7 linked regions of the Homo sapiens genome follow. The protein of the gene in region 6 purifies or fractionates together with the protein of the main gene of each other region. This does not show direct contact. Each region holds a gene or a part of one and is shown on either strand. Other genes may lie near its edges. The genes, in order: CTPS2, MVK, CALU, FLNC, CPOX, WARS1 and HERC4.

Region 1 (3,500 bases), on a different chromosome or scaffold from region 6:
GTTAATGAATGCAGGATGAAACAAAACTAGCATAGCCAAAAGTTCCCATCCAAAATGATTTTCTTTAGGAAAAGTTAGCCAAATCTTAAAAACAAGCAAAACAAAACAAAACAAAAAACCTGTGAAGTTTAAAACTGTTTAAGGCCAGGCATGGTGGCTCATGCCTATAATCCCAGCACTTTGGGAGGCCAAGGTGGGCAGATCACTTGAGCCCAGGAGTTCAAGACCAGTGTGGGTAACATAGAAAAATCCCGTCTCTACAAAAAAAAAAAAATATATATTAGCCGGGTGTGGTGGTGTGTGCCTCTAGTCTCAGCTACTCAGGAGGCTGAAGTGGGAGGATGACTTGAGCCCAGGAGGTGGAGGTTGCAGTGAGCCGAGATCGTGCCACTGCACTCCCGCCTGGGTGACAGAGCAAGACTCTCAAAAAAGAAAAAAGAAAACAAACAAAAAAAAATTTTAAATATTCAGAAACTAAAAAATGAACTAGCAAATAAATCAAATAAATCAGAATCCTTCCAGAGCTAAAAAAACATTCCTTCCAGAATTCGAATTCCTTTAATTCACTTTGGTTTATGTATAACAAAATCAAAGGCTCCAGAAATCTTCAAATAATACAGCAAAGCACCGCAACAGTATGCTCCATCTTTAGACATATCCAGACCAAAATGTGCACACGCAAAATGCCAAATACACACGCTTACCCTTTCAAGTAGGTCTTAGTTCTACCCCCAAACTCAAAAATTATTAAAGATTATACAAGTAATTCCTTTCGCTTACCTGTCAGCCATATTTCTCCACTTAAAAAGCAAATTACTTGCAGAATCACCGATGGGCAGGTGCAATCTCTCCTTAAAATATTTCACAATGCTTTGTTCCTCTAAAAGCACAGGAACTCGGTATGTGGAAGAAACATCATGGATACATATGACCTAAGTGGCGATGAGAAATCACCATACTTAGATGGATCTATTCAAATATGCCACCACAAGAATGAAACAAAATTCAGCAGAGACTGGCAGTTTATTTACACTGATATAACACACACACACGCACACACAAAAACCCAGCAACCAAAGCTAGCATCAGAATTTGCACAAGGTTAGCTTCATTTAATTAGAAAACTAATCCCAGCACTATGGGAGGCCGAGGCGGGCAGATCACCTGATGTCAGGAGTTCGAGACCAGCCTGACCAACATGGTGAAACCCCACCTGTATTAAAAATGCAAAAATTAGCTGGGCATGGTGACATGTGCCTATAATCCCAGCAACTCAAGAGGCTGACGCAGGAGAATCGCTGGAACCCAGGAGGCGGAGGTTGCAGTGAGTCGAGATCGCACCATTGCATACCAGCCTGGGTGACAGAGCAAGACTGTATCTCAAAAAAAAAAAAGAAGTGTACACAAAACGATTGGACAGGTCAGGTGTGGTGGCTCACGCCTGTAATTCCAGCACTTTTGGAGGCTGAGGCAGGCGGATCATCTGAGGTCAGGAGTTCAAGACCAGCCTGGCCAACATGGTGAAACCCCATCTCTACTAAAAATACAAAAATTAGCCAGGCATGGTGACACACACCTATAATCCCAGCTACTCAGGAGGCTGAGGCAGGAGAATCGCTTGAACCCAGGAGGCAGAGGTTGCACTGAGCCAAGAGTGCACCACTGCATTCCAGCCTGGGTGACAATAGTGAAACTCTGTCTCAAAAAAAAAAAAAGATTGGACGCAAACAAAATGGCATGACAACATATCAACATACAGATGCAGAAGTGTCCCTTCAATCTGCCATCACATTTTTCAAAGTAGTTCAGACTTCGGCAATGACTCTGAGGCATCAGGCAGGGGGCTCTCCATCAGACTATTTTCCAAGATGCCAAAATTCAATTTGATCATTTTTAGACTTCAGAGAACCCAGAGTTATAATCTGAAGAAAAGATTTCTGCCAAACCTCACCCTTTTCCTGAGCACCATTTATATCACTCTCTTTAAACTATAGGTAACTCCAATCCCTTATAACCAAGCCTTATTGGAATCAAGAGACAGAGATGAGAGAAGGAAAGAAAAAAGAAAAGCGAATTATCAGAATACCAAGGTGGAAAGCCCTACAGAGCAGAGAACCTAAGCCCAAATCACAGTACAGTTTCTGTACCAATGAAGTCAACTGAGCCCACTGATGGAGTCAGAAGAGCTAGTGCGAATGTCAACGTGCTCGTGTGTTTGGGGTGACTTAAGCTGCCACAGGTAGAGAGGAGAAATGAGTGAAAGCAGTAAGTGTTCCAGAAGGAAACACAAGATAAAGAGATGATAAGTAGGCTTCATGTGGTTCTCTCTCTAGAGGTTTGACTGTGAGTTAAACACCCACCCTGGTACTGGGCACGATGGCTCACGCCTGTAATCCCAGCACTATGGGAGGCTGAGGCGGGCGGATCATCTGAGGTCAGGAGTTCGAGACCAGCCTGGCCAACATGGCAAAACCCCATCTCTACTAAAAATACAAAAAAATTAGCCAGGCGTGGTGGCGCATGCCTATAATCTCAGCTGCTCAGGAGGCTAAAATAAGAGAATTGCTTGAACCCAGGAGGCAGAGGTTGCGGTGAGCTGAGATCATGCCACTGCACTCCAGCCTGGGTGACAGAGTGACACTCTGTCTCAAGAAAAGAAAGCCCACCCTGGTTTTGTGACATAAGTTGAGTGATCATGCAAAGAAACATGCATCCTATCTCACTTAAGGGCTAGGGAATCATGGTTGGATCAGGGTTCCCCAGTGCTTGCATAAATGCCGTGAAAAGTAATATGATCATTGAAGAGGTACAAAACACTGGCATCAGCAGAAGTGCCTGCCAGACAATAAAATCTAAAGAGCAGCACCAACCTGTTCAGGGTTCACGTGACAAAACATAGAAATCTTCTCCTTCACGGCCATCTCAATGGGCGTTGAACTTCGGCAGACAATCTGTCAAAGCCAGTTATGCTTCAGCAAACAGGATTCACTTTCAGCAGGATGCCACATTCATTTCTTTTTACAAGAAACTTGGCCAAGTATGTACTTGTTCACTTTGGACATTCCACTGGACTATTAGAAATTGGTCTGAGCACTAATATAAGTATAATCAAATTCAGCATAAGTGTATCAGTAAGAACTCGAAACATCGAGACGTCTCTGGTGAACAGAGTCCAGGCTCACAAGTGTTGCTTCATTAACTACAAGAAAAGAGCTAGATCGGGGTTAACAAACTTTTTCTCAAAAGGGCCAGATGGGAAATATTTTAGGTTTGCAGGTGACACAGTCACTGTCCTGATCCTCAATTGAGGTGCAGTGTGAAAGCAGCTACAGACAATATGTAAATGAATGGGTGTGACTGCATGCCAATAAAACTTTACTTACAAAAACAGGCAAGCAAGTTGTGGGCTGTTATTTGTCAACCTCTGACAGAGACTACTGGTGATGACTGGATCACCTGCTATAAGGACACATCACTGTTTAGACTAAAAATAAGAGCAG
Region 2 (3,500 bases), on a different chromosome or scaffold from region 6:
GCAATATGTGACTTCAAAGCAGGTGTTTCTCAACAGGTGCTGGAGAGGATGTGGAGAAATAGGAACACTTTTACACTGTTGGTGGGACTGTAAACTAGTTCAACCATTGTGGAAGTCAGTGTGGCGATTCCTCAGGGATGTAGAACTAGAAATACCATTTGACCCAGCCATCCCATTACTGGGTATATACCCAAAGGACTATAAATCATGCTGCTATAAAGACACATGCACACGTGTGTTTATTGCAGCACTATTCACAATAGCAAAGACTTGGAACCCACCCAAATGTCCAACAATGATAGACTGGATTAAGAAAATGTGGCACATATACACCATGGAACACTATGCAGCCATAAAAAATGATGAGTTCATGTCCTTTGTAGGGACATGGATGAAATTGGAAATCATCATTCTCAGTAAACTATCGCAAGAACAAAAAACCAAACACCGCATATTCTCACTCATAGGTGGGAATTGAACAATGAGAACACATGGACACAGGAAGGGGAACATCACACTCTGGGGACTGTGGTGGGATGGGGGGAGAGGGGAGGGATAGCATTAGGAGATATACCTAATGCTAAATGATGAGCTAATGGGTGCAGCACACCAGCATGGCACATGTATACATATGTAACTAACCTGCACATTGTGCACATGTACCCTAAAACTTAAAGTATAATAATAATAAAAGAAAAAAAAAACAGACCAAGGATCCAGAGCTACCTAATTACATTTAATAAATGATAATATAGTTAAAAAAACAAAAACAAAAACAAACCAGGTGTTTCTGTAAGAGTACGATGGGCTGAATTGCTGGGGGCTGGGGCGGGGTGGTGGTGCCTGAAGGACAAGGGGAGCCAGCTGGGCAAGGTGTGTGTGTGGGGTGCATTCCAGACACACCACTTGTGCAGCACTGGAACCACACCAGAGCTGGCTGGCCCTTCCCAGGGACCAACAGGTGGCAGCGTGCCTGGGATGAAGTGAGTGATGGAGGCGGGGGAAGGTAACTCAGGCAGCTGACCTAGCCCAGGGCCTGGCCCTCTCAACAAATGTGAGTCTTCCTCCTGCTCTACACAGTTTGTTTTTTAGGGGGCTCAGATTTGAGTCTTCAAAGGAGACTGGGCTCCAGTCCTTTCCGACTCAGAAACACATGATGGGTGGGGTGTGGTGGGGTGGGGTGGGGTGGGAGGTCTACTCTCCCTAAGGGTTCTGAGAAGGAATGACTGGCCTTCAGGGGAAGGTGGGAGAAATGGTTAGAAGCAGCATAAGAACACACACACATGCAAGTGCACACACACAGTCACCCTCCACCTTTTGAAAGACAGGGCCAGTCCTTTGGCCCGTGGAAAATCACTTGAACCTGGAGGCAGAGGTTGCAGTGAGCCAAGATCACACCACTGCACTCCAGCCTGGGTGACAGAGCGAGACTCCATCTCAAAAAACAAACAAACAAACAAACAAACAAACAAACAAAAAAACCAAGCTCAGAAAACAAAACAAAACAAAACAAAAACAAGCCCAGGAAGAGGACAGAGCTCTGCATTTGGGGGCCTCATCCACAACTCCTGGTCCTGGGACAAACTGCGTAACCTCTGCGCACTGGGTGGTTTCTCAAGGAACATTCTCCTAATGATAGAAATGGTCTGTGGTCAAGCCTGTCTGGACAGGCCTCACTGACTCACGTGGTCAATAGGAACGCAGAGAGGTGACACGCCCTCCGTGGAGACGGCCCCGTAGGAGGAGAGATGCCCTAGTCTAATGGGCACACCCCCTAATGTGGATTTCTCAGCAAACTCTTAGTTTCTTTCATAACCATGTGGTAAAACTGGACAATCACCCCTAGGGCACTGTCATTACCATACAGAGGAGAACACTGTCCTAGCCTGAGTCAATGCAGAGGTGGGAGGGTTCATCTAACCTGCTGCCCTCTAGATCTGGACTCCAGCTCTTTCTACCATACCATGGGCGCTTGAAACCAACAGAGCCAAGATGGGGGTGAGCAGAGGTGGTGGAGAGCAGGAGAGAAAAGCTCAGACTCTGAGTTCAAATCCCACTCTGCCAGCACTAGCTGTGTGGCCCTGGGCCAGCCATTTGACCTCTCGGGGCTCAGCTTCCTCATGTTAAAATGGCCACTATGACACCTCTCACCTCACAGGGAGGTGGTGAGGTCTCAGTGAGAGAAGCCACGTCCCTGTCCTGCCGTGCGGGAGGGACACTGGCCAGGTAAGGACCATGGTTACCTGTTGACGCAATCCCCGTCCTTCAGCGGGTTTGGGATCTCCTCGCACACAGTCAGGAGGGCTGCTGCCAGACACACCGAGTAGGCGGCGCTGGAGCCCAAGCCCGCCCCGGGGGGCAGCTCCGACCACACTACGATATCCAGGCTCGGCAGGGCCCTGAAACACACCAGGGTGTGAAACGTGACTCTCCCGCAGGGCAGTGGGGTGCCAGCACTGAACCAGGGGCCAGGCCCAGGCCTGACTCCAAGCATCTGGTCCAGTTTTCTCAACTGGGGGAGAATTCCTGACCCCAAATGTATCCCTATTGAACATCAGGAACTCATGCTGAATCAGACAACTAGAAAACAGGTATCAAGTTCATTTAAATCCCTGGGTCATTCAACCAGAGCCCTTCCCAGAAGCACCTGGCAAGCTGTCAACCCCTTTCTCCCACCTCCTTCCTGTGCCCACATGCTAGGCTTTTCTGTGGGCCTGCTCTGAGCACAGGCTGGCCCCTCTGCCTGCAATAGCCGTGCACCTCCTTATCCCACAGAGAAATCCCTACCCATCTCTCAAGGCCTTATCAAATGTCGCTTCCACTGTGACACTTTCCGTAGCTGCCCACAAAGACCCTCCTGGCTCCCCTTCTAGGACCCCCGCCTGCCCTCCCTCCCTCCACCGCTGCCTCACCACCGCACACTAGGATTGTGTGTTCACCGGGGCCTCTCCCGCCAGACGGTGCTCCCCAACCATGTGTAACACGGGTCTGCTTTTGATCACCAGAAAGGTCCGAATCGCTACATCTTACATGTATTTCCCCCAAGCAAGAACTGTCAAACTTCATGTTTGGTAATTTCCACGAAGTGCTTTTCCCATTTCCCAAATAGAAAAATTGTAATAATGTGCGTCTTCAAATTCCACGTACCCACCCCACCCAGCCTGGAAGATTCTGGAATGCCCCTCACCCACTTAAGGGGACATGCCTCTCTCAAGTTGAAATTCTGCTTCGGACGGCAAGTATCAGGCCGTTTCCGAATGTGTCCTCAGCATAGAGCCTGGCCACTGAGCCAGCATCTGCTGCTCAAGGGAAGGGCTGCCCCCTTGAGGTTTTTTTCCCTTTGGGTTCTGGACAAAAACAAAAACAACAAAAACAACAACAGAGAGGCTGGGGCCGGGTGCAGTCGCTCATGCCTCTAATCCCAGCACTTTCAGAGGCCAAGGCAGTTGGATCACATGAGCCCAGGAGTTTGAGACCAGCCTGGGCAACACAGTGAGACT
Region 3 (3,500 bases), on a different chromosome or scaffold from region 6:
CTCTGCTTTTAGTGTTTTTCTTAGAAAAGCTGAGAAGCTTTGAAAGGTGTATTTGCTGGCTGGGCACAGTGGCTCATGCCTGTAATCCCAACACTGGGAGGCCGAGGCGGGCAGATCACCTGAGGTCAGGAGTCCAAGTCCAGCCTGGCCAACATGGGGAAACCCCGTCTCTACTAAAAATACAAAAAAATTAGTTGGGTGTGGTGGCGGGCGCCTGTAATCCCAGCTACTCAGGAGGCTGAGGCAGAAGAATCGCTTGAACCCAGGAGGCGGAGGTTGCAGTGAGCCGAGAACACGCCATTGCACTCCAGCCTGGGCAACAAGAGTGAAACTGTCTCAAAAAAAGAAAGAAAGAAAGATGTATTTGCCCATAGAAACAATTTACTCCAAGGGTCAATTCTCACTAGCTCATTAGCTGTCACCAGATCATTAACCAGACCAGTGTGATAGTGGGTTGTGATAAAGTATCCGTAGCCACATTGCCCAATCAAAATATAAATGTGAGCCCCATATGTAATTTTAACTTTTCTAATAGCCACATTAAAAAGTAAAAAGAAACAGATGAAATTTCAGTAGTTATTTAACCTAATATTCTAAAACTCTATAATTTCCACTTAATGTAAATTATTGAGGGTTTTTTTTTAATACTTAAAGCACATCCCAGCCACATTTCAAGTGCTTAATAAGCACCTGTGGCTACCATCCTCAACAGCACAGATATAGTGTATCCTGCATGCTCTATGGAACTGATGGTAAAGAGTTGCAGGGGGCTGGGCACGGTGGCTCACGCCTGTAATCCCAGCACTTTGGGAGGCCGAGGCGGGCGGATCACAAGGTCAGGAGATCGAGACCATCCTGGCTAACACAGTGAAACCCTGTCTCTACTAAAAATACAAAAAATTAGCCGGGTGTAGTGGCAGGCGCCTGTAGTCCCAGCTACTGGGGACGCTGAGGCAGGAGAATGGCATGAACCCAGGAGGCAGAGCTTGCAGTAAGCTGAGATCATGCCACTGCACTCCAGCCGGGGCTACAGAGCGAGACTCCGTCTCAAACAAACAAACAAAAAAAAGAGTTGCAGGGAGCCCAGACTGACATAGGGAAACCCAGGGAAAGGAGATAGGGAATAGATTAAAAGATGGATAAATAAATGACGGGGAGTTGCTGATCCCTCTTGTAGCCATTCCTTTTTACTGTGTTCTGTTCATATTTTCTCTCTGATTCTCTGACTACTTTCCTTTTGTTTTTTAAGTTTCTCCCTTTTGACATTTCCCTTTTTAGTTGTCTAAATTTTTTTAAAAAAATTGTTTTGGATGTCACACCTTCAAGGCTAATTTCTCCCAAGTAAAGCTCTGTTTTATTATCATCAGACTAATTTTAAGATATTCTCATTGCTTTAAAAAAAAAAAGCTGTCTTTCTTACCAAGTAGTTGAGCAAATTGTTTCCCAATTACTGTGACAGAAATTAAAATGAGTAAAGGAGCTGGGTGTGGTGGCATACCCGGTTACTTGGGAGGCTGAGGCAGGAGGATCACTTGAGTCCAAGAGTCTGGACTATAGTCACAAGTTCATCATCAATATGGTGACCTCCTGGGAGCAGAGGATCACCAGGTTGCCTAAGGAGGAGTGAACCGGCCCGGGACAGAATCAGAGCAGGTCAAAACTGTGCTGATTAGTAGTGAGGTTGTGCCTGTGGATAGCAATTGTACTCCAACCTGAGCAACATAGCGAGACTCCATCTCTTTAGAAAAGTGAGTAAAGATGGAAAGTATAAGACTGTTACTACAAATGTCATTGTTACAAATACTTTGTTTAGAAAGATATTAGATATTTTAATATTTCACATACTTATTGTCATTTGTAATAACTTATTCTAGCACACCATTGGTTTTGTGTTTCAGATAAGCCCGTTTGTTTTTAGACCTCTGATAGTTACCTGAAATGTTTATTTGAAGCCTGAAAGGAAGACTTAATCCTTACCTCTATCACCTGTCATTAAACTGTATGGAGCAAGTCACTGCTTTACTTAGATGTTGTCTTATCATACCTGTTGTTTACATGCTAGAGTTATTCCAATTGAATTACTCCTTGACTGTTTACCTCCCTTTTCTTAGGTTCAGTGGCATACTTTGAACTTTTTAAAGAAGGATGAGCAATGGAAGATAGGATGGATGTTTTCCTAAACTGATTTTTTTTTTTTTTGGAGAAGTTTATCAGGACAGTGGATAAGTGCCTAGGTGCATTTACTGAGCCCACGTTGATGTTACTAGGGTTTTCTACTTTTAAATGATTTATCTTTTTATTCTTGGCTTTTGCCATTTTATTGCCATTGCTAAAACTGAGGAACTCATTTGAACCTCCCAAGGAGAGGAATTTTTATAACTGTTAACTACATCACTTATCAAGCATTGAGGCCAAATAAGGAGATATTTCTGTCTCCCTGTGTATCATATAGATTCAAGGGCAGAGGAGTTATATTTTGAAGCTACCAAAACTATCTTGTGCATGTGTGCTTTTTTTTTTTTTTTTTACAAGTCAGTAACTAATGCAAACACTTTTACATCTGGGATGCTGGGCTTTGTAAATCTAAAATTCTCCCAAACAGTATCTTTCAGCTTCTAGTGCCCTGTTGAAGGAGATCATGAAGAAACAAAGTTCTTCGCCTCATAAATTTAGCATTAAAAAGAAGCCCCATCAGTGCCTGTGGAAACATAGGGAAAGAAAAAAAAAAACACCCAAAGTTGTGCTGATAATTATTTTTATTTTTAAAATTTATTATAGAGCATTGCAGACGTACACAACTTATTTGTTTATTTATTTATGTTTTTTTTGAGACAGTCTTGCTCTGTCACCCAGGCTGGAGTGCAGTGGCGTGATCTCCACTCACTACAATCTCTGCCTCCCAGGTTCAGGCGATTCTTGTGCCTCAGCCTCCTGAGTAGTTGGGATTACAGGCATGCACCACCACACCTGGCTAATTTTTGTATTTTTAATAGAGGCGGGGTTTCACCATGTTGGCCAGGGTGATCTTGAACTCCTGGCCTCAAGTGATCTGACCACCTTAGCCTCCCAAAGTGCTGGGATTACAAGTGTGAGCCACTGCACCTGCCCCCAAATTAGAATAGTATAATGAATCCCCATGTACCTATGCCTAACCTCAACAACAATCAACTTACAGCCAGTTTTTTCTCAGCCACATCCACTTCCTTGCTTCCTTCTTACTTTGAAGTAAATCCCAATCATTATGTCATTTCATCTGTAAACATTGAGGTATATATGTCTAAAATATATATGTGTTTCTAAAAACATTTTTTTAAAGATAATGTCAACCCAAGAAAATTAATAATACCTTCAAATCATCAAATAGACTGAGTCTTTTAAAAATAGAAATTCGGCCGAGCATGGTGGCTCATGCCTGTAATCCCAACACTTTGGGAGGCTGAGGTGGGCGGATCACAAGGTCAGGAGTTAGACACCAGCCTGACCAACCTGGTGAAACCCCG
Region 4 (3,500 bases), on a different chromosome or scaffold from region 6:
GTTTGGGGGATGTCAGGGCAACACTGGGATTCCTCCTAGCCCTGGCCCTTCCCTCCCCCATCAGTTAAACCTCCTCCTCTGCTCAGACCTGCCCTGGCCTTCGGGGCCAGTCTGCCAGCATCAAGCCTGGTCCGCAGCACCCTCCCATCCCGCCGTGAGGACCCGGCCGGCCCAGTGTGCGGTGCTCACCCTCCTGCTGCCGGGTGATGCTGCCGAAGGATCCCAGGCGCTCCCGGCCCAGGAAGTCCCCAAACACAGCAGGGAAGGGGTCCCCGCCGACCTGGGTGGACTCCTCCACCCGCACCTCGCGCTTTGTCTCCCCGCCCCGCGTCTTGCTGATCTCCGTGCGCTCCGTGCGGGTGTAGGTGTGGCTGCTGCGTGTGAAGGTGCGTGTCAGGCGCTCCTGGGCAGACACCATCTGGAACCAGTTTCCTGTGTGGTCAAGGGAGCCAGGGTGAGGGAGGGAAGCGAGGGGTGAGGAAGCAGGGTGGAGGCCCGACAGGTGGGCTCTGGCCCGGGCCAGCCCTCTCCCACCACCCGCCCCACCCAGGGTCCTCCAGGCTTCTACCTGGGATCTTGAGGTTGAGGTCACAGGTGCTGCCGATGGTGGCGATGGAAGGTGCCTGTCTCCGCCGGGTGATGCTCTCCTTCATGCGGCCCTCGCCGGTCACCTTCACAGTGAAGGGGCTTCCTGAAGTGGGGACAAAGGGTGGGTCAGGAACCTCAGAGCCCCAGCCTCCTGGCCTCCCTGTCTCTCGCCACCGACCTCTGCCCAGAGCCTTACCAGGCACGTGCTTGTCAGCAAACTTGATGTTGATGATGTAGGTGCCGGGCTCGGTGGGGCAGTAGGTGACTTTGCATGTCCCGTCCTCCATGTCCTCACAGTTGATGTCCACCTTGCTTGGGCCTTCAATACTCAGCCCCAAGCCCCCATAACCTGGGGGAAAGCAAGGAACACATCTCCCTCAGTCCTAGGCTGGCCAAGCCACAATGCTTTCCTCTCCCCAGACTGCAGGCTCCACCCAGAATGGGCACCGATGTGTGTAGTGACCACTAACAAAAATGGCTCAGTGGGAGGAGCGGGGGCACCACGGGACAGGCGGTCTGGAAAATTCCCTAAGGTAAGCCTCTTGGATTCCAGTGAGCAAGGGAGGGACAGAAACTCAGGACAGCTGAGCTTTCTCTTAAAAGGGAGAGAACTGATGCGGGGCCATTCACTTTCCCGCAAGGGGCCCCAGAATGCGAATCCTGACGCAGACTGGTCAGGAAGTTTCAGGGAGGAGAGAGTGCGGCCAAGGGGGTGCTGGGCAGGACGAGGACAAGTGCCTGTGGGAGGCACCCGCTGGAATGGGGGCTCTCTGGGGCAGGAGGTACCTGCATTGCGAGTGTCCACGATGAACTCTGCCACCTGGAATGTGTGTCCCTCGGAAAGCCCCTTGCCCCAGACCCGCACCTTGCTGGCGTCCCCGATCTCAGATGGCCCCACCAGGATCTTGAAGGGGCTGTTGGTGACATGCTTGCCACTCTTGCGCACGCTCACCACGTGCTCCCCGACCTCCTTGGGGGTGAAGGAGATCCCTGTGGAAAGTGGGTGTTAGGCAGAGCATCCTGTGGGCCCCCACCCCTGAGGTCCCCGTGAGGCCCCACGCTCACCAATGTGCCGGTTGGGCAGGCGCTTCAGCAGGCAGGGCTCCTCGTTGCCCGAGGGGGCACGGATGCTGGCGGTCAGCTGGCTCAGATCACTCTCGGTGATCTTCAGTGACACGTCCGTGGAGGTGCCCACATTCAGCTGTGAGGTCCTCATGGAGTCATCACCTGGTGGGGGAGTTGGGGCATCAGGCTGCTATGACTCCAGGCAGGCCCTGCCCTCACAGGGCTCAGGAACCCTCCTGAGCAGCCCCCCCTGGACTCAACAGACACGGGGGGCCACTCCCAGGTGCACGGAGGCCCAAGGCCTGGAAAGTGCAGTCTGCACTCACATGTGAGCTGCCAGAGACTAAGAGGGGCCTGTACCCCAATTCCACTGTGGCTGCCTCAGTCCTTGTGGGCTAAATCCCTAAAGGAAACCTCCTGCATTTTAACCCTGAGTCACATGATGTTGTGATAACAAAACACTAGACTGGACCGCCCAGACCCCTTCCTCGCTGTGTGGCTGTAATCATGTTGCTTGGCCTCTCTGGGACAGGGGTTCCTTATCTATCAAAAGGATTATCCGTGCCCTAACTTCTTAAGAGTGACTTCATGCTGGGCGTGGTGGCTCACACCTGTAATCCCAGCACTTTGGGAGGCCGAGGCAGGTGGATCACAAGGTCAGGAGATCGAGACCATCCTGGCTAACACGGTGAAACCCTGTCTCTACTAAAAATACAAAAAATAGCCAGGCATGGTGGCGGGCGCCTGGAGTCCCAGCTACTTGGGAGGCTGAGGCAGAAGAATGGCATGAACCCGGGAGGCGGAGGTTGCAGTGAGCCGAGATCGTGCCACTGTACTCCAGCCTGGGTGACAGAGCAAGACTCCCTCTCAAAAACAAAAACAAAACAAATGACTTCAAAGACTAAATGAGGCAATGTGTTTTCAGGCACAAGGAGTGGCTGACTGCTTCTTAGCTGCCGTGGAGAACAGAGTGTTTTTACATTTATCAAAATATGACCCCTCACACCTTGAAGGGCCTCTGCCCTAATGTCACGAGTGACTTGAACGGGCTGGGCTTGCACATGAGTGCACTGTATGCGGTGTGTGTGCCTCATGGGCTGTACATGCCCATACACCCGCCTCACCTGTGATCTTGGCTGTGAAGGGGCTCCCCGGGATGTGCTTGTCATCGAAGCGCACGATGATGCTGTAGTCTCCAGGCGCAGTCGGCAGATAGGACACGGTGCAGGTGCCATCCTTGTTGTCCTTACAGGTGATCTCTGCCTTGGATGGGCCCTCCACGGCCAGTGACAGACCCCCTGTAGGTGGAGGTGTGGCCAAGATCAGAGGTCCTGCCCTCACCCCTGCCCCTGGTGAGTCTCCACCCCAGCCTGCGACCTGCAGCTCCCTCACCTTCTCCAGCATCTTTGGTGACAATAGTGAAGGTGGCTGGCTTGTTGACCATGCCATGGCTCAGGCCTGGCCCATAGGCACTGACATGGCGGCTGTTGATGGCATCCACATAGAACTGTAAGGGGCTCCCTGGGGATACAGAGAAAAAGGGGGCTGGGTCAGCATCAGGGATTATCTGAGCCCACCTTGGCCCCAGCACCTTCCAGCAGCCTCCCTGCCAACCCCCTCCGTCTGTGCCGTAGGGACCCAGCTGGTGGAGGTCTGCTTCCCACCAGGGTATAAGCCTCCCTGGGGCCTCGCCTGGTGTCTGCACACAGCGGGTGCTCAATAAATATTTGTTGAAAGAGGGAAGGCAGGACTGAAGCTACGGCCTGCTCCTCTCACCCAAGCCCCAGCCCAGCCCAGCCCCTAACTCACCAGGGATGTGGTTGCCGTCATACTTGATCCCCATCTGG
Region 5 (4,111 bases), on a different chromosome or scaffold from region 6:
ATATGATTTCCAAGTCAATTTTCAAAAGCTGCTTTTTAATTTGTCACTTAAAAACATAATTTTAAAAAAGTATTTGTCAACGTGCGGCATATGAACCCGAATGGCTTTTTTCAGAAGCAATATTTATTTTATAAATAAAACTTGTGGGCAAAATAAGGTTTGCAGGGACTATTAGAGACTATCAAGACTGTCTGATTTACCATCTTTAGTCTTCAGAACTTTTCCTCTGCTTCTCATTTGTTTTGCAGCTTCCTCTGAAAGATTTCCATGAACAACAGAAATGCTCACCCCAGCCTTTTCGAAAACACACCCATCTTGAAGTACACAGCTGATGCCGCCACCTCCTGTGTATAGAAATGTAAAAAAGGAGAGAATGTAAGAGTATGTGCAAAACTGAAAGCAACACTTGCATGAAGATGGTTATTTTCCCGTTTCCCAAATCTTTTATATCAGTGTATTTATCATTTTATGTACAATACAATTAGATAACTAGCTTAGCTTTATGACATATGCTATTAATATTGGGCAAATACTAGACCTTCTCATATCACTAAACTGAATATTTCTTCAACATTCTCCTGCCATCATCTAAAATAAATCACTGGAATATTCTCCCTTCAGATTCTACTGTTCAGAATGGCATCTATCAGTTATGATATATGAGAGAAAGCTAAGGTTAAAAATAGGAATGGGTAGACTTGAAGGGTGTTCTATTATTACTGAATTTAAGAGATCTATATTGTTTCAAAAATTTCTTTCTCAGTGGGCTGCTTGCCTTTTAATTTACAAGCAATTAAGAAACAGTAGGTAATCAAATTCTGAAGGGATTCAGAACCTTAGAGTGAGTGAGACGCACATTAGTATTCACGTGTATCAGCCTTACTAATTTTTTTTCTTAAGGTATTAGGGTCACTGCAAGGGCAATGTTTCATGAAAGTTCATGTTTGGCTTGTTTTATTTCTAAGAACATTTAGAGCTGGATGGGACATAAGATGATCCAGTACAACCCTCATATATTCCAAATGAGAAAACTGAGGACCAGAGGGGCAAAACATCTTATCCAAGATCAAACTGCTGACAAGTGGCTGCAACAATTTGTCTAAATGCTGTCTATGCTTCAGACAATATTCTAAGCACTTCACATATATTCCATCCATATATATATATATATATGTATATGGATATATATATATATATATGTAGTATGAGGATTAAAAGAGATGAAATACATATATATTTCATAGATGGGAAAACAGCCATAAAAAAGTAACTTCTGAGGATCACACAGCTGGTCTAGTACTTGAGGTTGTGTCCTGGTTCAGTGGTCTTTGCTTGAAAACATAAGATGGAAAACTAGACTGAACTTCATTTAATATAGATGTGTCAGTATCACAGCTCAAAATCTGCCGGTGAGAAGCTGCTGTTGTATTTCCAGCTAGGAAAAGTCAGGAATCTTTCAAGTTTCCACTCAAGATGTGGGGTTTCACTGTATGGGCAACAACATGGTCATGAATGTACGCCTCTACGAGAACTGGGTTTTGATGCTCAAGTATTTTGATATTGGAAGAGAAGATTTTCCTAGCAGGAAATCTGATGCGTGCATTTGGTAGTGCTACTGAGAAACGAATCAAATATATCTTGTGTAACAGTAAAAAGAAGTGGGAAGATTCTGACACAATGACATCCTGGCTGGAGGAGTTTAGCCGACACTTAGCGCACAGGAGATGAGTTCTTTCCATCTCCTAAAGAGGAAAAAGGGCAAATTCACCCAGAGAAGGAGAGAAAATGTGTTCCATAATCTATTGAAATTTATGTTCAGTAACGAACTTTGGACATCTAAGCTTGTTAGCTGCAAATACCCCTTAAGAGTTCTACAAAAAAATGCTGCTACGGAATTGCAAAGATTTTGAAATGCAGTACTACAGTGACAGCTGATCCGGGTCCATACCTGCAAGCAGAGGGCTAGTGACCCTTTCGTGTCCATCTTTTTATCAGCGGCCTCTAACCAAGCGGCCTCTCTGTGGGTACCCCCTACCTACCCCATCCCATATTGTGAACTATTATATTTTCTGTCTGCAACCTGGAACCTGACCCTTTTTCCCTGTCTCCAACTCCCGCCAGGGGCCGGCCTCCTTACCTTCCTTCCTCTCCCACCGGTCCACAGAAAAGTTGGCGCCCCCGTCTACCTGTGCCAGAGCCTGGCACACCTGGGCCTGGGTCTCCAGAATCAGCAGCTCCATCTTGGTCTTCATGTCGCCCGGCCTCCTTCGCAGCTCGCCCAGGTCGGTCACAGGCGGGGCCATGAAGCTGCTGCAGCGGTGGGCCAGCTCATCCTCCTCCTCCTCCGGCCTCCCCAGCGAAGTGGCCCGCGTCCCCGAGGTCTTAGGCAACATCTCCGCCCGCTGCACATGCCCGAAGGCGGCGGTGGCCAGCCCCACCAACCCCGCCAGCGCCGCGGCCAGCCCTGTCCCCACCCAGGGGCCGCCTCTCGACGTCGAGCCGTGCCCCAGCCCGCGGCTCTGCTCCGTGCCAGCCGGGCCAGGGGGCCGGCAGACGCGTCCGGCTGCGCTGCGCTGGGACCAGGCTCGGAGCCCTCCGCCGCCGCACTGGGACCAGGCGCGGGGCCCTCCGCAGCCGCCCCGCGCCACGAGCCAGCAGGGGCCCGAGCTCAGCCTGCCCAGCTGCAAGGCCATGTTCCCGCACTATCACCTGGAGCAGTGCCTGCGTCCCAGAGCCCTGCGTTTGAGCCCCCCACCCAGACCCCCGGAGTATTGAGCCGGCGAGCTGCACAGGCGGAAAGAACCTTTCGAGAAGAGCCGCTGCAGCGTCGGGCTCCGGAGGCGGGGGCGGGAACTGGGGCGCGCTGGGAGCTGTAGTCCGGATCCTATCGCCGCCTGCGGCGTCCCTGCGCGGGGCGGGAGATAAGAATCCGACGCGCCCAGAAGGGCTGGTCCGAAGGGAAGAGAGTGGGGCGGGGACGGTGCTGTGGAAGGGACGGGAGAGATAAAAGAGGCTTTCTTGTCACGTACAACCTCGGGTCGGCTGTTTACTCAGCCAAGGAGAGAAGATAGAGTAGGGCTGGGAGGCTGAGGGCGGACTGGGGCGGAAATGTGGCAGAGATCCCAGTCCCGCTTACATTTTCAAACAGGATTTGCGAATACAGAGCCTGGCTCAGGATCTGTATAGACCCGCCCTTCGCCCTGGGTCCTGGTCCTCTAGAGTTTTTAGAGGGGATGGGCAGGCTGGGAAACTCTTTGCTGAAGGATGGTTTTCTAAAGAGAGTGGGAGAAGCTAGTAATGGACTCGGAAGAGAGTCGAGGAGAAGACTTTCTGTGATCGAGTCCACATCACAGTTCTGTCCTTAAGATTTCCCCAGGCTGGGGCCGGGCGCGGTGGCTCAAGCCTGTAATGCTAGCATTTTGGAAAGCCGAGGCGGTTGGATCACATGAGGTCAGGAGTTCGAGACCAGCCAACATGGTGAAACCCTGTCTCTACTAAAACTACAAAAAAATAGCCGGGCGTGGCGGCGTGCACCTGTAGGCTCAGCTACTCGGGAGGCTGAGGCAGGAGAATCGCTTGAACCCGGGAGGCAGAGGTTGTAGTGAGCCGAGATCGCACCACTGCACTCCAGCCTGGGTGACAGAGTGAGACTCTGTCTCAGAAAAAAAAAAAAAAAAAAAAGGTTTCCCCAGGCCTTGCTTCTATAGTGCCTACTTGATTATTTTAGAAAAAGGAAAAGCAACGTGACTGTTTTGGTTAACCAGTAGAAAATTCCTGACTTGGTGTGTTTTGGTGATTAACAAATAAGAATTTAAAAAATAGTTATTCTACTACTGTAGGGTGCTCCCAAATATTGCTCACGTTTAATACTTACAACAACTGCTACAAACTAGGCAAGGCAAATATCCACACTTCCTCCTACTCTGTCTCCCTTCCCCCACCCTTTAAAGAAATGAGGAAAGAAGCTAATAGATTTGACAGGCAGGTCTTTGTCTCCCCTGTAACCATACCACAGCTCCATGGTTCCTGGACGTAAAAGTGTGAGAACTATTGTCATGGGCTAATTTGTCCCATAAGTCTCCGGGATGATTTTAATTTCTAGTAGTAGATA
Region 6 (3,500 bases):
TAATCCTCCCCCGCGGCAGCTTTGTAGCTCATTTTTAATGACACCAACATCTTTACTGCAGAATCAATTTCATCCTGAGAGAGGAAATAAAAGGGATGGCTAAAAGTATTACTAATAGCTGATATGTGCTGAATGCCTATTCTGTGGCAGGCACTGTGTTAAATGCTTTTACACGTGTTACCTTAGTTAGTGTCACAACCCTACAAGGCAGGTATTGTTGTCACTGTCCTTTTCCAGCTCAAGAATCTGAGACTCAGAGAGGTAGAGGAGCTTACCCATAGAATCACAGCAAGTCATTGGCTCGAAAACACTTCATTTTTATCTGTTATTCTAGTGCTACCATGAACACTTTGGGACAGTAGCAGTGACACAATATACACTGTCATTTATGACAAAGTTCATATGCTAAAGATTTCTCAAACACCACTGATGCCAGAGAACGTGTGTGACAAGCTCCTTTAATTGAGATTCCTGGAGTTCTGCATTGGAACTAGTTTTTACATACCACACAGGTTGAGATGAATATTTACGTTAACTTAACCAATGATGCCACTAAGGATAGTAAGAGCAACTAAAACAGATAAAAGCAAGGACAAAAAATGTAGGCTCTCAGGTTATAAATTAAGGAGGGATTCACTGGGAAATAGTTACATCATCACATTTTGGAGTCTTATCAAACTATCTTGAAAAAAAAAAAACAAAGGTAAAATGTACCCTTGGGTAGTCTGGAAATGTATTAAAGACTCTTTTGCAGGAGTCCATAGTGGCCACCCCTGGAAGCCTGGTGTTTAGAAAAGCAGGCCTAATTAAGCTGATTAGTCATGCTATGCCCTAAAGCTCTATTCTGGTAATTGGCCTTGCTGGATTAGATCACAAACAAAGAATATACACAGCCCAATTTGCTTACCAAGGGAAATACAAACATTTCCACTTACAGTTTATACAGAACATTCTTTCTTTTAAATCTCCTTAAATTCCTTTTACCATATACAGAATGTTCTATAAACACCAACCTCCATTCAGAGATAACTATTCCATCAGATATAGCACTTGGGCCATAAAGGACTGTGATTCTGGAGTAATCTGTGTTTCAAACTACAAAATTATCTGAGACTCATCATTAAAATGAGCCAGATTTGTGGAATCAGTAACCCAATGGATACGATTCATAGATGAGATGTTTGCCCAGGTTAGATAGTTAAGTATGTTCCACCCATCTCATTTCTGTAGTACCTAGGCTCAGTACTTGCAAAAAATAACAGTTTAGTACGTATAATCTATCCAATTATCTATGGGAAGGCTTACCTTGCTTTGAAGTACACTGCAGTCAATATCACTTAATAACTAGCTTTGTTGACATTTCATACTCTATCTGGTCTAATTCTGCTTGTAACTAGGAGGCTCTGCGAAAGTCAAACATTTAACCAATGTCCCTGCTCAAGGACCATCTGCATTTTGGAATAGCACCAAAATAAGACAAGCAGGCTTACCTTGTCTATTTTCTTATAATCAGTCTTAATCAGTGTCTGAACCAGGACACTGAAACAGGATTCAAAAGCTGATGTTAGCTGGGTGCAGTGGCTCACACCTGTAATCCCAGCACTTTGGGAGGCCAAGGCGGGCGGATCGCCTGAGCTCATAAGTTCGAGACCACCCTAGGCAACATGGCAAAACCCTGTCTCTACCAAAAATAGAAAAAATTAGCCAGGTGTGGTGGCACACACCTGTGTTCCTAGCTCATCGGGAGGCTGAAGTCAGAGGATTGCTTGAGCCAGGGAGGCAGAGGTTGCAGTGAGCCGAGATTGCACCACTGCACTCCAACCTGGGTGATGAAGTGAGATCCCCACCCCACAAAAAACCCAGAACATCAGTTTTTTTTAGACAGGGTCTCACTTCAGTCTCCTGAGTAGCTGGGACTGCAGGTGTGTGCCACCATGTCTGGCTAATTTTTAAATTTTTTGTAGAGACAGGGTCTCACTATATTATCCAGGCTGGTCCCAAACTCTTGGCCTGAAGCGATCCTCCTGCCTTGGCCTCCTAAGTGCTGGGATTATAGGCATGAGCCACGGAGCCTCGCCAAAAGCTGATGTTCAGAAAAAAAAGCCAGACACAAGACTGTATTACATACAGTTCAAACCCAGGTAGAGCTACCCCTGGTGGGAGGAGTCATGGCAGAGGCTGAGGCGCGTGAGGGTGGCTTCTAGGTGCTCTCTGCTTGCTGTTGATTTGGGTGCTGGTTACACAGGTGTGGTCATTTTGTGAAAATTCAGTGAGGTGCCTGCTTGTGCTTATGATCAGCATGTTTTTCTATATGAATGGTATATTTTGATTTTAGAAGTTACTTAAACAAAAAGGAGAAGAAGAAAAAGGCTCTGCTCTCTTTCTTAATACCTAAGACCTAGCATTGCTTCTTTAGTCCTGCTCAAACTATTTCCCCTCACAGCCCTCAGATGCTGACTTATTTCCCCCTAGGAAACTTGCCGCTTTAATGAGCTGCTGCTACTGAAGGATGTGGATCTTATTCTTTAGATACACTGGAGCAGAAAAGACCTTCAAGGTCCATGGCCTAGATAAATGGCAGGAGAAGAAAGAGCTCAAGGTGCCCTCTCTTAGAACTGGCACTCCCAATGTGGCTCACACTATTTTGCTAAAAGTTAATTTTTAAAATTTCCAAAACATCAAGTGCTTCTACTACCAAGACATTTCAGGGTCAGATACAAATGTACTTCTGAATTTTTCACCACTTAACTCTGGTCTCATTGTGCAACCTCTGATGTCTTCAACGTGTGCCAGCCAATTGCATTAGTCAAATAATACACTTGGAAGAGTTATTATAAAATGTATTAAGTTGACTAAAATAATGAACATAACTGCAGTCACTAAGAATTACTAACTAAAAACATTTACTAAATGTTATTCAAATTTAATATTAAATGGACAAAAATACCACTGTCAACTTCCCAAAATGATGGGCTTACATAACCCCACTGGGTCTTTTATTTATTTTATAATTTTGTTTTAAAACAACTTGGTTTAATCGTTTGAGGCCTACCTGGTGAGTAAATCTCTTTCTGTAAAAAAGTAACTTTTTTTTGACATTACTTTCTTTCAGTACTATTTATTTCATTTAAAATATGAGCTGGGTGCAGTGGCTTGCATCTATAATTCCAGCAACTTGGCAGGCTAAGGTGGGAGCCCAGGAGTTTGAGGGTGCACTGAGCTAGGATTGCACCACTGCACTCCAACGTGGAAAGAGCGAGACCCTGTCTCAAAAAATACACACACACACACACACACACACACACACACACACACAAATAATGATTTAAATCAGGGTCCCAAATAGTCAAAGTAAACTACTGGGGAATGTGAGATGGTTGACACAATCTGGTGACAAGCAAGGTGTTTGAAAAGATAACAGATAACAGGAGTTAAAAGTGTCGGAAGTCGGGCCGGGCGTGGTGGCTCACACCTGTCATCCCAGTACTTTGGGAGGCTGA
Region 7 (4,163 bases), on a different chromosome or scaffold from region 6:
GAAGCTAGCAGAGAAGCCTGGAAAAGATTATCTCTCAGAGACCCCAAGAGAGAACCAAGCTTACTTTCACCTTGATTTTGAACTGGTCTTCAGAACTGTGAGACAATAAATTTCTGTTGTTTTAAGCCACCGAATCTGTTTTAATTTATATGGCAAGCCTAGGACACGAATACACACACTTGAACATATTCTAGCACAGACAGTTCTTATCTAAAACATGTTTTTCAACAAGAGATAAAGAAACAGGCCAGGACCGGTGGCTCACGCCTGTAATTCCAGCACTTTGGGAGGCCGAGGCGGGTGGATCGCCTGAGGTAACGAGTTTGAGACCAGCCTGGCCAATATGGCGAAACCTTGTCTCTACTAAAAATGCAAAAATTAGCCGGGCATGGCGGCGCATGCCCGTTGTCCCAGCTACTCAGGAGGCTAAGGCGGAAGTTCCAGTGAACTGAGATCGCACCATTGCACTCCAGCCTTGGGGAACAGAGCGAGACTCTGTCTCAATAAATAAATAAATAAATAAATAAATAAAAATAAGAAAAGAAAAAGAAAGATGGCCTATTTGTGGAACTTCTTCTAGGTACTGAATATTCATTCTAGCAATACCCAACTTACAATTTCAAAAGTGCATTGTTTCAAGTTCTCCTGCTTTTTAAGAAGTTAAGGCTGGCCTAGGAGATCCAGACTTCGTTTTTATGAATCAGGGACTGCAGCCAATGTGTAATTTTCTCTGATAGAATGAGACCCTGCAATTCAAGCCTATCTTTCAGGGAGAGTGTAGAAAGTGATGGTAGCCAACACTGTACAAGGAAACTGAACTGGTGGTGGTGGTAGTAGAGTAGCTTCAGCCATTGCCATCAACACATCTCACATCCTCAGACTGGCTCCAGTTGAGGCCATGGGATAAAATAACTCTTCACCAGTCTTTATGTTCATAATTGTGATGTTTCATCTGCTACTTTAAAATCTCCTTGGGAAAAGAGAGAGTAAAATAATAAAAAGACTAGCTAGCATCCATGAGCACAAAGACAACCAAACCAAAAAACAAAGTGATTTTCTTCATTAAAAGGCTTTGTGCACGCCGAAGCATTCTCAAAAACAGTTGACATCTTCTTCGTTTGTCTTCGCAAACTCCAACTTTCTGTATTTGGCTTTTCCCTCTTAAAGCAACGCAAAGCGGCACACTGCGCAGGCGCCTGTGGCCAGCCACCCCCCCCCCCCCCCCCCCGGAAGATTCGGCGCAGGCGCCGGTGCCGGGGCCGGGAAGTGGGCGGGCTCGCGCGCGTGCTCTGCGGTTCACTTCCGGCCAGCCCCTCCCCCGCCTCCCTCGCGTGGCCACCTCCCCCTCTGCCTTCTCCTACCCAGTCTCTTCCCCAACTCTCCCCACCCCTGGTGCTCTCCGCCCCGCTTGCCTCCCGTTCTTCCCCGCCCGCTCCATCCGGGTCGCTGACGGCTGTCTCTGGACTGGACAGCAGTGGCGTCCGCTTTTCTCTAAGGAACCCGGTAAAGTTTCCCAGGGGCCGGGGAGGGGAGCAGCGGAGCAGCGGCACAGACGCCGGAGGTGCCCTGGTGATCGTCGCCACTGGCTGACAGAGGAGGGTCCCAGGAGCCGGAGACGTGCTTCAGCGACCGCGCTGCCTTGCTCTCTGGGCAGGGGCCGCCCCCCGTCACCTTGGGCTTCCCCTACCCTGAAGGGCTTGGGCGAGTTGTGGCCCCAGCGGGTTCGGGGGCGTGTGACGGCGTTAGGGAGGGGCAGGCCGGGCTGGGCGGATGCAGGCCGGCCCGGCATAGGGCGCTTTCTCCGCGCTTCCTGGGGGTGAGGGGCGTGGGGCGAGGGCAGGGCTGTGGCTCCCTGGCCCCGGGGCTGGAATGTCTCATCTGCCTGGGGATGGGCTTCTCTCAGGTTGAGGCCGCGCACTGCCAAGCCTCGGCCGCCGGCCTCTGAAGCTGTTGCGAGCGGCCGGTTGCGGTAGTCGTCTGCTTGGCTGCGAGGTTGGGTGTGTGCAGATGATTTCTCTTTCCCAGTCCCCATGAGCTGATCTGGGTGCACGTTCAGGGAAAGACGGGACTAAACTGCTTCTCATTTCCCTACCTGTTGCTGGCGAGAGGACGCCTCTGTGTTTTAAAGAAAAGGGTGGTTAAACCTCGCGCGCTGAAGTCGGGGTATTTTCCTGTATTACTCTTATTTTGTTTTTAAATATGGGAAGACAATGCAGAACTCTTGGGAATTATCGAGTTCTGATACCCCAAAAGAATGAAATCAAACTTCTGTTAATGGGATGATGGGTCGTGGAATGGGACACCTTGGGCACTTGCTAACAGGAACATAGGAAAATTGGAGTTGAAACTTCGCAGGCTCTGTAAGAATGTGGATGACTGCTACAGAATAAGGCTGACTTCCTGTAATTATGATATTTAGTAACGCGATGTGTTTAAAAGTCTACGTATGTATAGATGAAGTGGACTCTGTTATTTGTGTCTTTCTTTACAAGTGAGGAAATATTCAGTCAGTGTGCTGGAAAGTTCTACAGATTTCGCCATCAGACTATCCATTCCTATTCTTGAAAAATCTGCAGTGCTGGAGTTATTTGCAATTCCCCCCCGCCAATCTTTAAATAATTGTCTCAGAGATATAGATAGATATAGATTGCCCACGGGTGATTTTTTTAATCCCGGTTACCACTTGTAATAAAAGAGGTTGAATTTTGGAGAGAATTGATATTTAAATTGCATGTTTTTTTTTCTGTATTATAATTATGCACATTGATTTAGTTTTAAAATTAGTGAGGTTGGAATGTTAGTATTTTGATTTGAAATCTGGGATCTTTGGAGGTGATTTAAGATTATGGTTTGGTAAGAGAATCTTCATTTTCTCTCTGGGCTAAAGAGTAATTGGGAGAGTCGTTTAAATTGTGGAAAATTGCTTTAAATTTCCATTATTGGTTTTATTTCTGTTACAGATAAGAACTCCATTTTCTGTTGATGTGGAGGTAGGTATTAGAAAGCTTAATTATACTAGGATTGCAAGGTTATGTTTCTGCAGTTGGCTAAATTTTGCACTGTGTATATTTGCTTTTTGGGCAGAGGAAAGATGTCTTATTTCTTGTTCCCATTGAAATTATTTAAAGCAAAAAGTAGAAAAAATTGTGATTAATTTCATCAAGGTACTTATTCCTATTAGTTTAGTCTATCACAAGATAACCAGAAGTCAAAACTAGTTAATATGTTTTAAATTTTGCAAAGGATCATAGAAAGTGTCATATTTTCCCTAAAAATTTCTGTATGATACATTTTAAAAAATACAACTGATTGGTTTTTGAAACTGAATGATACTTATGTAGCATGTTATAAAGTATATTTAATGTTTACCATGTAGCAATTATTGTAGCCTAGCACTTGAAAGAGCAATTATACATCCTTTTTTCTTTGAAGTCATATTAACTTCTTTCTATTTCCTCAGACATAGGGTACCTCCAACTTTCCGGGGTTTCAGAAGAGAATTTTTTATTGAAACTGGAAGACCAAAATAATTACAAGCATGTTGTGCTGGGGAAATGCATCCTTTGGGCAGCTAGGTTTGGGTGGAATTGATGAAGAAATTGTACTAGAGCCCAGAAAAAGTGACTTCTTTATAAATAAAAGGGTCCGAGATGTAGGATGTGGACTCAGACATACTGTGTTTGTTCTGGATGATGGAACAGTGTACACATGTGGATGTAATGATCTAGGACAGCTAGGTCATGAAAAATCCAGAAAGAAACCAGGTAAGTTGAAATGTTTTTAAAATTTGCTATTTTTAATAATTATATCATTTTAAATTTGAATCATCGTATAATTTCTCTAGTTGTAACTATATGTTTATCAAGCTTTAAAAGCAAAGTAGAAGTTATGTATTTCCATTATATGTGTATATTTGTATGGTTCTAAGTACTTTATGTTGTGGTTTCTTTTTTTTTACTACTAGTATTATAAAACCTTATTTTGTATGACGATATAAAACAATAAAGAAAATCAGCCTGCAGTATATAAATCTTTGGTACAGAGTGTGTAGTGTGCAGGTCCTCTTTAATAAATTCTGTTCAGCCACCCTGGATAGATTTTAAATGCATAATTTACTCTGTGTTTACCTTACTTTGGGAGGGGGGAGGAAAACAAGACGGAAG

What was found.
Region 1: the proteins of WARS1 (region 6) and CTPS2 fractionate together in Homo sapiens (co-fractionation; one large-scale study listed by BioGRID). This does not show direct contact.
Region 2: the proteins of WARS1 (region 6) and MVK fractionate together in Homo sapiens (co-fractionation; one large-scale study listed by BioGRID). This does not show direct contact.
Region 3: the proteins of WARS1 (region 6) and CALU fractionate together in Homo sapiens (co-fractionation; one large-scale study listed by BioGRID). This does not show direct contact.
Region 4: the proteins of WARS1 (region 6) and FLNC fractionate together in Homo sapiens (co-fractionation; one large-scale study listed by BioGRID). This does not show direct contact.
Region 5: the proteins of WARS1 (region 6) and CPOX fractionate together in Homo sapiens (co-fractionation; one large-scale study listed by BioGRID). This does not show direct contact.
Region 7: the proteins of WARS1 (region 6) and HERC4 fractionate together in Homo sapiens (co-fractionation; one large-scale study listed by BioGRID). This does not show direct contact.

Annotation. Positions count from the first base shown.
Region 1 is NC_000023.11:16,688,670-16,692,169, forward strand, and holds part of CTPS2 (CTP synthase 2), read right to left. Parts: intron 2,952-3,500; coding exon 2,871-2,951; intron 933-2,870; coding exon 781-932; intron 1-780. UniProt on the Homo sapiens protein: Catalyzes the ATP-dependent amination of UTP to CTP with either L-glutamine or ammonia as the source of nitrogen. Constitutes the rate-limiting enzyme in the synthesis of cytosine nucleotides.
Region 2 is NC_000012.12:109,580,294-109,583,793, reverse strand, and holds part of MVK (mevalonate kinase), read right to left. Parts: intron 2,400-3,500; coding exon 2,244-2,399; intron 1-2,243. UniProt on the Homo sapiens protein: Catalyzes the phosphorylation of mevalonate to mevalonate 5-phosphate, a key step in isoprenoid and cholesterol biosynthesis.
Region 3 is NC_000007.14:128,759,859-128,763,358, forward strand, and holds part of CALU (calumenin isoform a precursor), read left to right. Parts: intron 1-3,500. UniProt on the Homo sapiens protein: Involved in regulation of vitamin K-dependent carboxylation of multiple N-terminal glutamate residues. Seems to inhibit gamma-carboxylase GGCX. Binds 7 calcium ions with a low affinity.
Region 4 is NC_000007.14:128,850,906-128,854,405, reverse strand, and holds part of FLNC (filamin-C), read right to left. Parts: coding exon 3,463-3,500; intron 3,175-3,462; coding exon 3,046-3,174; intron 3,006-3,045; exon of another isoform or gene 2,952-3,005; coding exon 2,778-2,951; intron 1,816-2,777; coding exon 1,654-1,815; intron 1,579-1,653; coding exon 1,375-1,578; intron 1,122-1,374; exon of another isoform or gene 1,009-1,121; intron 938-1,008; coding exon 785-937; intron 692-784; coding exon 569-691; intron 433-568; coding exon 190-432; intron 1-189.
Region 5 is NC_000003.12:98,590,812-98,594,922, forward strand, and holds the start of CPOX (oxygen-dependent coproporphyrinogen-III oxidase, mitochondrial precursor), read right to left. Parts: upstream 2,801-4,111; 5' UTR 2,694-2,800; coding exon 2,138-2,693; intron 345-2,137; coding exon 201-344; intron 1-200. UniProt on the Homo sapiens protein: Catalyzes the aerobic oxidative decarboxylation of propionate groups of rings A and B of coproporphyrinogen-III to yield the vinyl groups in protoporphyrinogen-IX and participates to the sixth step in the heme biosynthetic pathway.
Region 6 is NC_000014.9:100,361,848-100,365,347, forward strand, and holds part of WARS1 (tryptophan--tRNA ligase, cytoplasmic), read right to left. Parts: intron 75-3,500; coding exon 1-74. UniProt on the Homo sapiens protein: Catalyzes the attachment of tryptophan to tRNA(Trp) in a two-step reaction: tryptophan is first activated by ATP to form Trp-AMP and then transferred to the acceptor end of the tRNA(Trp).
Region 7 is NC_000010.11:68,072,484-68,076,646, reverse strand, and holds the start of HERC4 (probable E3 ubiquitin-protein ligase HERC4), read left to right. Parts: upstream 1-1,363; 5' UTR 1,364-1,503; exon of another isoform or gene 1,504-2,960; 5' UTR 2,961-2,990; exon of another isoform or gene 2,991-3,460; 5' UTR 3,461-3,538; coding exon 3,539-3,764; intron 3,765-4,163. UniProt on the Homo sapiens protein: Probable E3 ubiquitin-protein ligase involved in either protein trafficking or in the distribution of cellular structures. Required for spermatozoon maturation and fertility, and for the removal of the cytoplasmic droplet of the spermatozoon.